2 separate regions of the Homo sapiens genome follow, and region 1 is linked to region 2. The links come from fine-mapping of genetic effects on gene expression. Tissue or cell type: uterus. Region 2 holds a variant in brackets; the other region holds the start of a gene. All regions are shown on one strand. Distances are between the middles of the regions.

Region 1 (4,152 bases), 640 kb after region 2:
TCACGCTACTCAGAATGGCATGCAATTTAAAACTCACACTTTATTTCTGGAATTTTCTATTTAATATTTTTGGACTGTGGTTGACTGTGGGTATCTAAAACTGCAGAAAAGTAAAACCAGGGACAAAGGGAGACTACTGTATGGAGAAGTGTTGTTTGGGAGTTTTGGAGAGGCACCCCAGTTTGCTCACCAGCCAGTGATATCTACTTTTTGTTTTTCCTGTCCTCTTACTCCTTCCTGCTGCTTGAAACACAAATAAGATGACTGGAGCTTCACCAGCCATTCTGAATCATGAGATGGCCTTATAGATACAAGTCAGAGAGGATATTGGAGCAGAGAGACAGAAAAGCCTGAGTTCCTGATGACCATGGAAACATCGTACCAGTCTTGGAGTGCCAATTCTGTACTTCTTTTATGTGAGAGAGAAATAAATTCCTGTTGTCTAAGCTATTCAGTCTGTGGTATTTTGTTATGACAATCCAAGCTGACTAATACACCTGCTTCTTTTTTTTTTTCAGTCAACATATGCTTGTGCAATTCACTCATGTTCATAAGTGCACCCTGGAACATTACCATGTTCCAGGGCTTCTCCTATAGAAACAGAACATAGCCCAGTTGATTATTTTTTATTCTGATTGATTTTTAGGAGTTCTTTACATAATCTGGGTTCTACTCATTGTGGGTTTTGAGGGAAATACCTTTTCCCAGTTTATGGCTTGTCTTTTCATTCTCTTGATGACGTCTTTTGATGTACATTAAAAATTATCTTTAATACAGTGAAATCGGCTAATCTAGAAAAGGATTTTTTCCTTGGACTGTTCATGGCATCGGTAAATTAAAAAGTAGTTACTGTCAAGTTCACTGCACATAAACCAGCATTGTTAAAAGTGGATCTCCATCATTCCATTTCCTTTCCTGCATTTGTCAGCATCGTTTTTCACACTAAAGATGAGGAGATCCATATTCCTAAGACATATACGCTTGGTCTGTAGAGACCCTCATTGCTCTAAGGCAGTGGTTGCCAGTTTTTTCCTTAAAGGGCCTAGTAGGACATAGTCCAGGCTTTGCCAGCCATACGGTCTGTCACAACTGAATTCTGCTGCCCTTGTAGCATGAAGGCAGCCAAACAATAGGTAAGGAATAAACATGGCTTTATTCGTGGCACTGAACTTTGAATTTCATATAATTTCACAACACAAAATTGTATTCTTTTGATTTTTTCCAATCATTTAAAAATGTCAAAACCATACTTAGCTGGAGGGCTGTAGGAAAACAGGTGGTGGGCTGGGTCTGGCACACAGGCAGCAGTTCGTGGACCCCTGTGCCAAGTGTTTGACGAAGCCCGTGAGGCAAACTGCACTTGCCGATAGAGGTTGCGCCACACAAGTGTCTTGGAAGCAATTTCTGGCTTGTCCTAGGCCTTAGAAAGTGCGTGCAGATCAGAGCCATGAAGTGAAGAGCAAAGCAAGTGACAGGCCTGTCTCAGGTTGTGCAACAGAACGTGTTTATGACAGATGTCCCCTGTCCAAGTGAGTGCACTGTGAGATAAGGGGCCGGTGACCTACCAATGCGTGTGGCAAGCCAGCCTGTTCCCCCTTGCAGGGGGAGGACACTCCTGCCCTTTATTCCAGGGAAGAGTATGTGTAAAAATATTCACCCTTGTTGGTATCAAATGCGCTGAAGAAAATAGGTATCGGGGTTTCAGCCATTCGGTCTCCTTGTTAGTGTTTCTAAGCCCTGATTTTCAGTTTCAAAACCTTGGTCTCTGAATCCGCAGTGATGGGTCTCTAGAGCGAATACATGGCAGGGCCGCCTTCCTCCGTACAGAAAGGGAGAATTGTGCTTGTGTGTTTTACCAAGCAGGACAGATGGGGCCGTCACCCCCGTGACCCGAGCCCTGCAAAACTGTGTTCTCACACGAAAACCCCCAGGCTCTGCGGGCAGCGTGGTCCTGCAGTGGCTAACACTGGGCGACCGGAGTCGTGTTCCGACCCCTAGGAGAGGAACCGGCTCGGTCGTGGTGCAGCCCGCGAGGAGACGACCTCAGGGCGTAATCCGACGCCGTGGGTTAAGACATCAGACCTCAGGCGCAGTGCAGCCGGCCCCTGGGGAGTCAAGGACCTTGATCGCCGATAACAAGTTGCCGTTGGCGGGCGCCGAGGGTGACCCGCGAGCGCGGCACCCGCCTCCCCGCCCCTAGCAGGACCCCCTCCGCCCCGCCCCCAGCCGGACCCCTCCCCGAGGCCCCGCCCCACCCGCGAGCCGCAGCCGCGGCCCCACAGCTTCTGGGGCTGGGGCCCCGGCAGCCGGGCAGGCCGGCCTGACCTCGACCTCCGCCGTGCGGGCCCGACCGGTGAGTCCAGCCCGGCAGTCGCAGGACCCGGCCGCCAGCCTCTCCCTCCACCTCTCCCTGCCCCCAGCGCCAGGCGCGGGCTGCGCTCGGTGGCGGCGGCGGGGCCCTCAGGCGGCCATGGCGGCAGGCGCCGGGGCCGGGTCCGCGCCGCGCTGGCTGAGGGCGCTGAGCGAGCCGCTGAGCGCGGCGCAGCTGCGGCGACTGGAGGAGCACCGCTACAGCGCGGCGGGCGTCTCGCTGCTCGAGCCGCCGCTGCAGCTCTACTGGACCTGGCTGCTCCAGTGGATCCCGCTCTGGATGGCCCCCAACTCCATCACCCTGCTGGGGCTCGCCGTCAACGTGGTCACCACGCTCGTGCTCATCTCCTACTGTCCCACGGCCACCGAAGAGGTAGGGCTGGCCGATCGCCCGAGCCGGGCCCCAGATGCGCTGCGGGCGGGTCGCTGGAGGCGCCGGGGGAAGGGCGGACCCACGCGCGGCTGAGCCTCTCCCGGGCCCCGGAGGGGCGGACTGGCCACTGCCCCGGGCGGTGTCCGCCCTGGGCCGCCTGGAGACTGTCACGCCACTATCCCAATCCCGTGACCATCCCAAGCCTCCCCTGGGCAGCGGAGGGGCTGTTAAGGTCACTGCCCCAGGTCCTATGTCCGCGCAGATCCTCCCCACGGCCGCGGACGGGCCGGAGGGCGCCTGCCCAGCCGCTATCCCATGCGGCGCCAACCTGTGAGACGGACCCGCGGTCGGGTGCTTTGCACACTGGGGACTGAACACCCCCATCTCCGTCCTGCCTGGCACAGGGACTTGTGCCAAGCCCGAGACGCCCTTTGAATACTTTCGTAACCGTTCGTTTCTGGAAGGTTGAGCTAGTGATCTTGAAATGACCGGTAGCACTGATCAAAGATGAGTTAAGAGGTAACTTCCTCTTTGCTTCATCGACTTTTTCAAGAAAAACAAACTGGAATGTTATCAAGGCAATAATTTTTTTGTCATCACAACCTAGGGATTAAAAAAACCCCAACATTTTATTAGCAATAATTACATTTGACCTTTGTACAAAATAAGGAGTAAATATAGGCTTTGGATAGCTGTTCATCAGAAGCACCCTTTGGGCTGAGTGTGGAGGGATAGGGGGCAGAGTGGAGTTCACTCCCATCTATAGTTTATACTACGTGGGATAAATATTACATTGCACATTCTGTGACATTACTTTCTATTCTCTGCTCCAAATAGTGAAGTCCCTTTATAATCATTTGAGTGTAGGCCTTGTGGAGGACTCATGGAGGTTGAGGTTGGATTAACAGAAATACAGTGGAAATATTTCATGCCCTCCATGCATGCATCCATTTTGTTGTTGTTTTTGAGACAGGGGTTTACTCTGTCACCCAGGCTGGAGTGCCGTGCCGTGGCTCGATCTCGGCTCACTGCAACCTCCGCCTTCAGGGTTCAAGCGATTCTTCTGCCTCAGCCTTCCAAGTAGCTGGGATTACAGGCGCGTGCCACCACGGCCGACTCACTTTTGTGTTTTTAGTAGATACAAGGTTTCACCATGTTGGCCAGGCTCATGCATCCTTTAAAAACAAAAATTTGATCGAGCCTACATTTTAAAATATCTTGTCAATGGATTGGTATGCTTATTATGTATTTCTTTTCTTTTTTTTTTTTTTGAGACAGAGTCTCGCTCTGTCACCCAGGCTGGAGGGCAATGTGGTGATCTCGGCTCACTGCAACCTCTGCCTCCTGGGTTCAAGCGATTCCCTTGCCTCAGCCTCCTGAATAGCTGGGACTACACGTGCCTGCCACCA
Region 2 (4,360 bases):
TGTGAGGGAAGGATCTGTTCCATGCCAGTCTCCTGGATTCTGGTGATGGCTGATGGTCCTTGGCCTTCCTTGGTTTGTAGATGCATCACTCCTATCTCTGCCTCTGTCTTCACCTGGCATTTGCCCCGTGTCTCTGTGTCTTCACATGGCTATCTTCTTCTCAAGACGGTGGTCATATTGGATTAAGGGCCCAGCCTACTCCAGTTATGACCCCATCTTAACTAATTACATGTGCACTGACCCTACTTCCAAATAAGGTCACATTGTGAGGTACTGGGACCTTTTTTGAGGGGACACAGTTCAACCCATAGCAGAGTACCTGTTGAAGGCTGAGAGCTACTTATCACAGACCACTTGAGCTACAACAGAACATGGCTTCACGCTGTAAGCAACAGAAAGCCAACTGGAGTTATAATCCGGGAAGGGACATCATCAATTGTATTTGGGAAATAACTCTGGCAACAGTGCAGGGAGAGGTGAAAGTGGAGGCCAACTGGTGGCAGGCAGGCCCCTTAGAAGGCATTCTAGTACTCAGTCAAAATATTACGCAGAACTTGGCTTCAGAAAAGATCCAATTTCCAGAATAAAAACCACACGTGTAAAATGTTTTCCTAGCTTTAGTTATTTATAATATGCAAAATTTGTGAACAACGTAAATGTCCAACAATAGAAGAACGGTTTGGTAAATTATAAGCAGCTATTATAAATTGCTCTTTCAAAGCATGTTGATAATACAAAGCTTGTATTTAAATTTTTTTAAAGTAGGGTATAAAGTATACAAGTAAAACACGATTTTGAGTATATTAAATGTAAATGAAAACAGAAAGAAATGATGCCATAATATTAATGGTGGTTTGCTTTATGTGGTGGGATTGTGGGAAGATTTTTTTCAACTTTAAGTATAATTTATGTGCAATAAAATCCAGCAACTTTAAGTGAACAATTCAACAAATTAGGTCAAATATATATAGTCATGGAAGCATCACCATAATGATGATATATAAGAGAACTTTTTTTCTTTTTTTTGAGACGGAGTCTCGCTCTGTCCCCCAGGCTGGAGTGCAGTGGCACAATCTCGGCTCATTGCAAGCTCCGCCTCCCGGCTTCACGCCATTCTCCTGCGTCAGCCTCTCGAGTAGCTGGGATTACAGGCGCCCGCCACCACGCCCAGCTAATTTTTTTGTATTTTTAGTAGAGACGGGGTTTCACTGTGTTAGCCAGAATGGTCTGGATCTTCTGACCTTGTGATCCGCCCGCCTTGGCCTCCCAAAGTGTGGGAGCCACCGTGCCCGGCCTAAGAGAACATTTTTATCCTCTCAAAAGTTTCCTCATGCCTCTGCAGTCAGTCCCTTGGCAACCTGAAACCTGCTTTTTACCACTGTAGTTTCAGCTGTTCTAGAATTTCATGCAGATTAAATTATTCAATATATAGCATTTTGTGTCTGGCTACTTTCACTTCAGTTAATGCTGTTGAGATTCATTTATGCTGTTGCCTGTGTCAGTAGCTGGTTTCTTTTTAGTACAGAGTAGTATTCCAGAGCCTGGCTATGTCATAATTTGTTCGTCTACTTACCAGTTAATGAATATTTGGGTTCAGTATGGTTTTTAACTACTATAAATAAACCTAGAAACTATTGGCTCTTCTAGTTTTTTGTTTTTGTAAATTTTCATAAAAGCCTTTGTAGCCATTCATCTTGGATGAATAATTAAAAGTGGCATTGCTGGATCATGTGATAAGTGAATGCCTAACTTAGTAAGAAATTGTTTCCCAAAGTGGCCATATCGTTTTGTAGTCAATATCAGCATGATATGAGAATTCCAGGTGTTCCACATTCTCACAAGCACTTGGAATTGTCAGTCTTTATAATTTTAGTCATTTTAGTGGGTATAT[G/A]GTATTATCCCATTGCAGTTTTAATTTGCATTTCCCTAATGAGTAGCGATGTTGAACATCTTTTCATGAGCTTATTTGCAATCTGCACATCTTACTTGGTGAAGTGTTTGCTCAGATCATTTGTCCATTTGTTATTGGGTTGTCTGTCTTATTTTTAAGTTAAAAGAGTACTTTTATATATTCTAGGTAGAAATGCTTCATCTTACAGGTGTTTGCAAATTTTTTTCCCTGTCTGAGTCTTGCATTTTTATTTTTTAATGGTGCCTTTTGAAAACCAAGAGTTTTTTCTTTTTATATAGTCTAATTTAAATTTTCTTCTGCACTCATTTTTTGTTTTATTTATGAAATCTTTGCCAAACTCAAAGTTTCTAAGATTTTCGTCTATATTGTCTTCTAAAAAGCTTATCGTTTTAGCTCATATGTTTAGGTTTATGACTTATTTCAAGTTGGTTTTTGTATATGGCATAACGTAAGGGGCAGATTTATTTCTTTCCATGTAGATATCCAGTTTTCCTAGTACCATTTGTCAAAAACGCCGTTCTTTTCCTTTTTGAATTTTCTTGGTACATTTTGGTTGAAATCAATGGGCCATATATGTATGGGTCTGTTTTCAGAATTTTTATTATGTTTGATGTGTATGTGTACACATGGCAATAATCCACTGTCTTGATTATTATGGCATAATAACTGTTAAAATCATATTTTTCTTTTCAAAAATTGTTTTGCTGTTTTAGGTTCTTTGCATTTCCAAAAAAATTGTAGAATCAGCACTTAAATTTCTTCAAAAAAAGTGTTGATATTTTGATTGGGATTAAGTTGAATCAATGTCAGTTTGGAAAGATTGAGTGTCATTTAGCTTTTTGTTTATTTACATATTCTGTAATTTCTCTAAGCAATGTCTTATTATTTTCAATGTACAAGGCTTCCAGATATTTTGTTAAATTTATGCCTATATATTGGATTTTTTGAGTTTTTTACAAATAGTATTTTTCTGTAATTTCAATTGCCAGTTATTCATTGCTACTACATAGAAATACAATTAACTTTTGTATATTGACCATATATCTTGTGACTTACTAAACTCAGTTATTAGTGCTTCTAGCTTTTTTATAGATTCCTTAATATTTTCAACATAGATGATTAAGAAATTTATAAAATAAATAAGTTTTCTTTCTTTCTAATCTATATGAGTTTTATTTCTTTTTCTTGCCTTATACTGGTTAGGACCTCCAGAATAATGCTGGATACAAGTTATGTACTAGACATCCTTGCCTTATGCCCAGTCTTAGGGGAATGTGTTTAGTCTTTCAACATTAAGTATGATAGAAACCACAGGTTTTCATATATGTCTGTTATCAAGTTGAAGGACATTCCTTCTATTATTAGGAACTGAGGGTTTTAAAAATCATGAATGGGTATAGAATTTTGCCAAAAGCTTTTCCTGTATTAACTAAGACAATCCTGTTTCTTTCTTTCTTTTATTTTTTTATACTTCAAGTTCTGGGATACATGTGTGGAACGTGCAGGTTTCTTACATAGGTATACATGTGCCATCGTGGTTTGCTGCACCCTTCAAATCGTCATCTACATTAGGTATTTCTCCTAATGCTTTCCCTCCCCGATCCCCCTATCCCCCAACAGGCCCCAGTGTGTGATGGTCCCTGCCCTGTGTCCATGTGTTCTCATTGTTCAACTCCCACTTAGGAGTGAGAACATGCAGTGTTTGGTTTTCTCTTCCTATGTTAGTTTGCTGAGAATGATGGTTTCCAGCTTCATCCATGTCCCTGAAAAGGACATGAACTCATTCTTTTTTATGGCTGCATAGTATTCCATGTTGTGTATGTGCCACATTTTCTTTATTCAGTCTATCATTGATGGGCATTTGGGTTGGTTCGAAGTCTTTGCTATTGTGAATAGTGCCACAATAAATATACGTGTGCATGTGTCTTTATAGTAGAATGATTTATAATCCTTTGGGTGTATACTCAGTAATGGGATTGCTGGGTCAAATGGTATTTCTGGTTCTAGATCCTTGAGGAGTCACCACATTGGTTTCCACAATGATTGAACTAATTTACACTCCCACCAAAAGTGTAATTAGTGTAAAAGCGTTCCTATTTCTCCACATCCTCTCCAGCATCTGTTGTTTCCTGACTTTTTAGTGATTGCCATTCTAACTGGCATGAGATGGTATCTCATTGTGGTTTTGATTTGCATTTCTCTAATGACCAGTGATGATGAGCTTTTTTTCATATGTTTGTTGCCTGTGTAAATGTCTTCTTTTGAGAAGTTTCTGTTCATATCCTTTGCCCACTTTTTATGGGGTTGTTTGTATTTTCCTGTAAAGTTGTTTAAGTTGCTTGTAGATTCTGGATATTAGCTCTTTGTCAGATGGATAGATTGCAAAAATTTTCTCCCATTCTATAGGTTGCCTGTTCACTCTGATGATAGTTTCCATTGCTGTGCAGA

What was found. PIP is the estimated chance that this variant, and not a neighbour inherited with it, causes the effect.
Region 1: CHPT1 starts here. The variant in region 2 is fine-mapped to the expression of CHPT1 in uterus (GTEx, PIP 0.97).

What each region holds. Positions count from the first base shown.
Region 1 is chr12:101,695,392-101,699,543 of GRCh38, forward strand. CHPT1 (choline phosphotransferase 1) reads left to right here and starts at 2,249. Exons shown (of 9, transcript NM_020244.3): 1 at 2,249-2,743. The coding sequence starts at 2,471. It also overlaps a transcript of MYBPC1 not described here. RefSeq lists an enhancer at 1,723-1,972 and silencers at 2,193-2,532, 2,793-2,982.
Region 2 is chr12:101,053,492-101,057,851 of GRCh38, forward strand. The region is part of intron 14 of ANO4 (anoctamin 4); the gene reads left to right. Among named protein-coding and RNA genes, the nearest start is that of SLC5A8, 150 kb to the right of the region's middle. The variant G/A (reference allele first, on the strand shown) is at 1,892.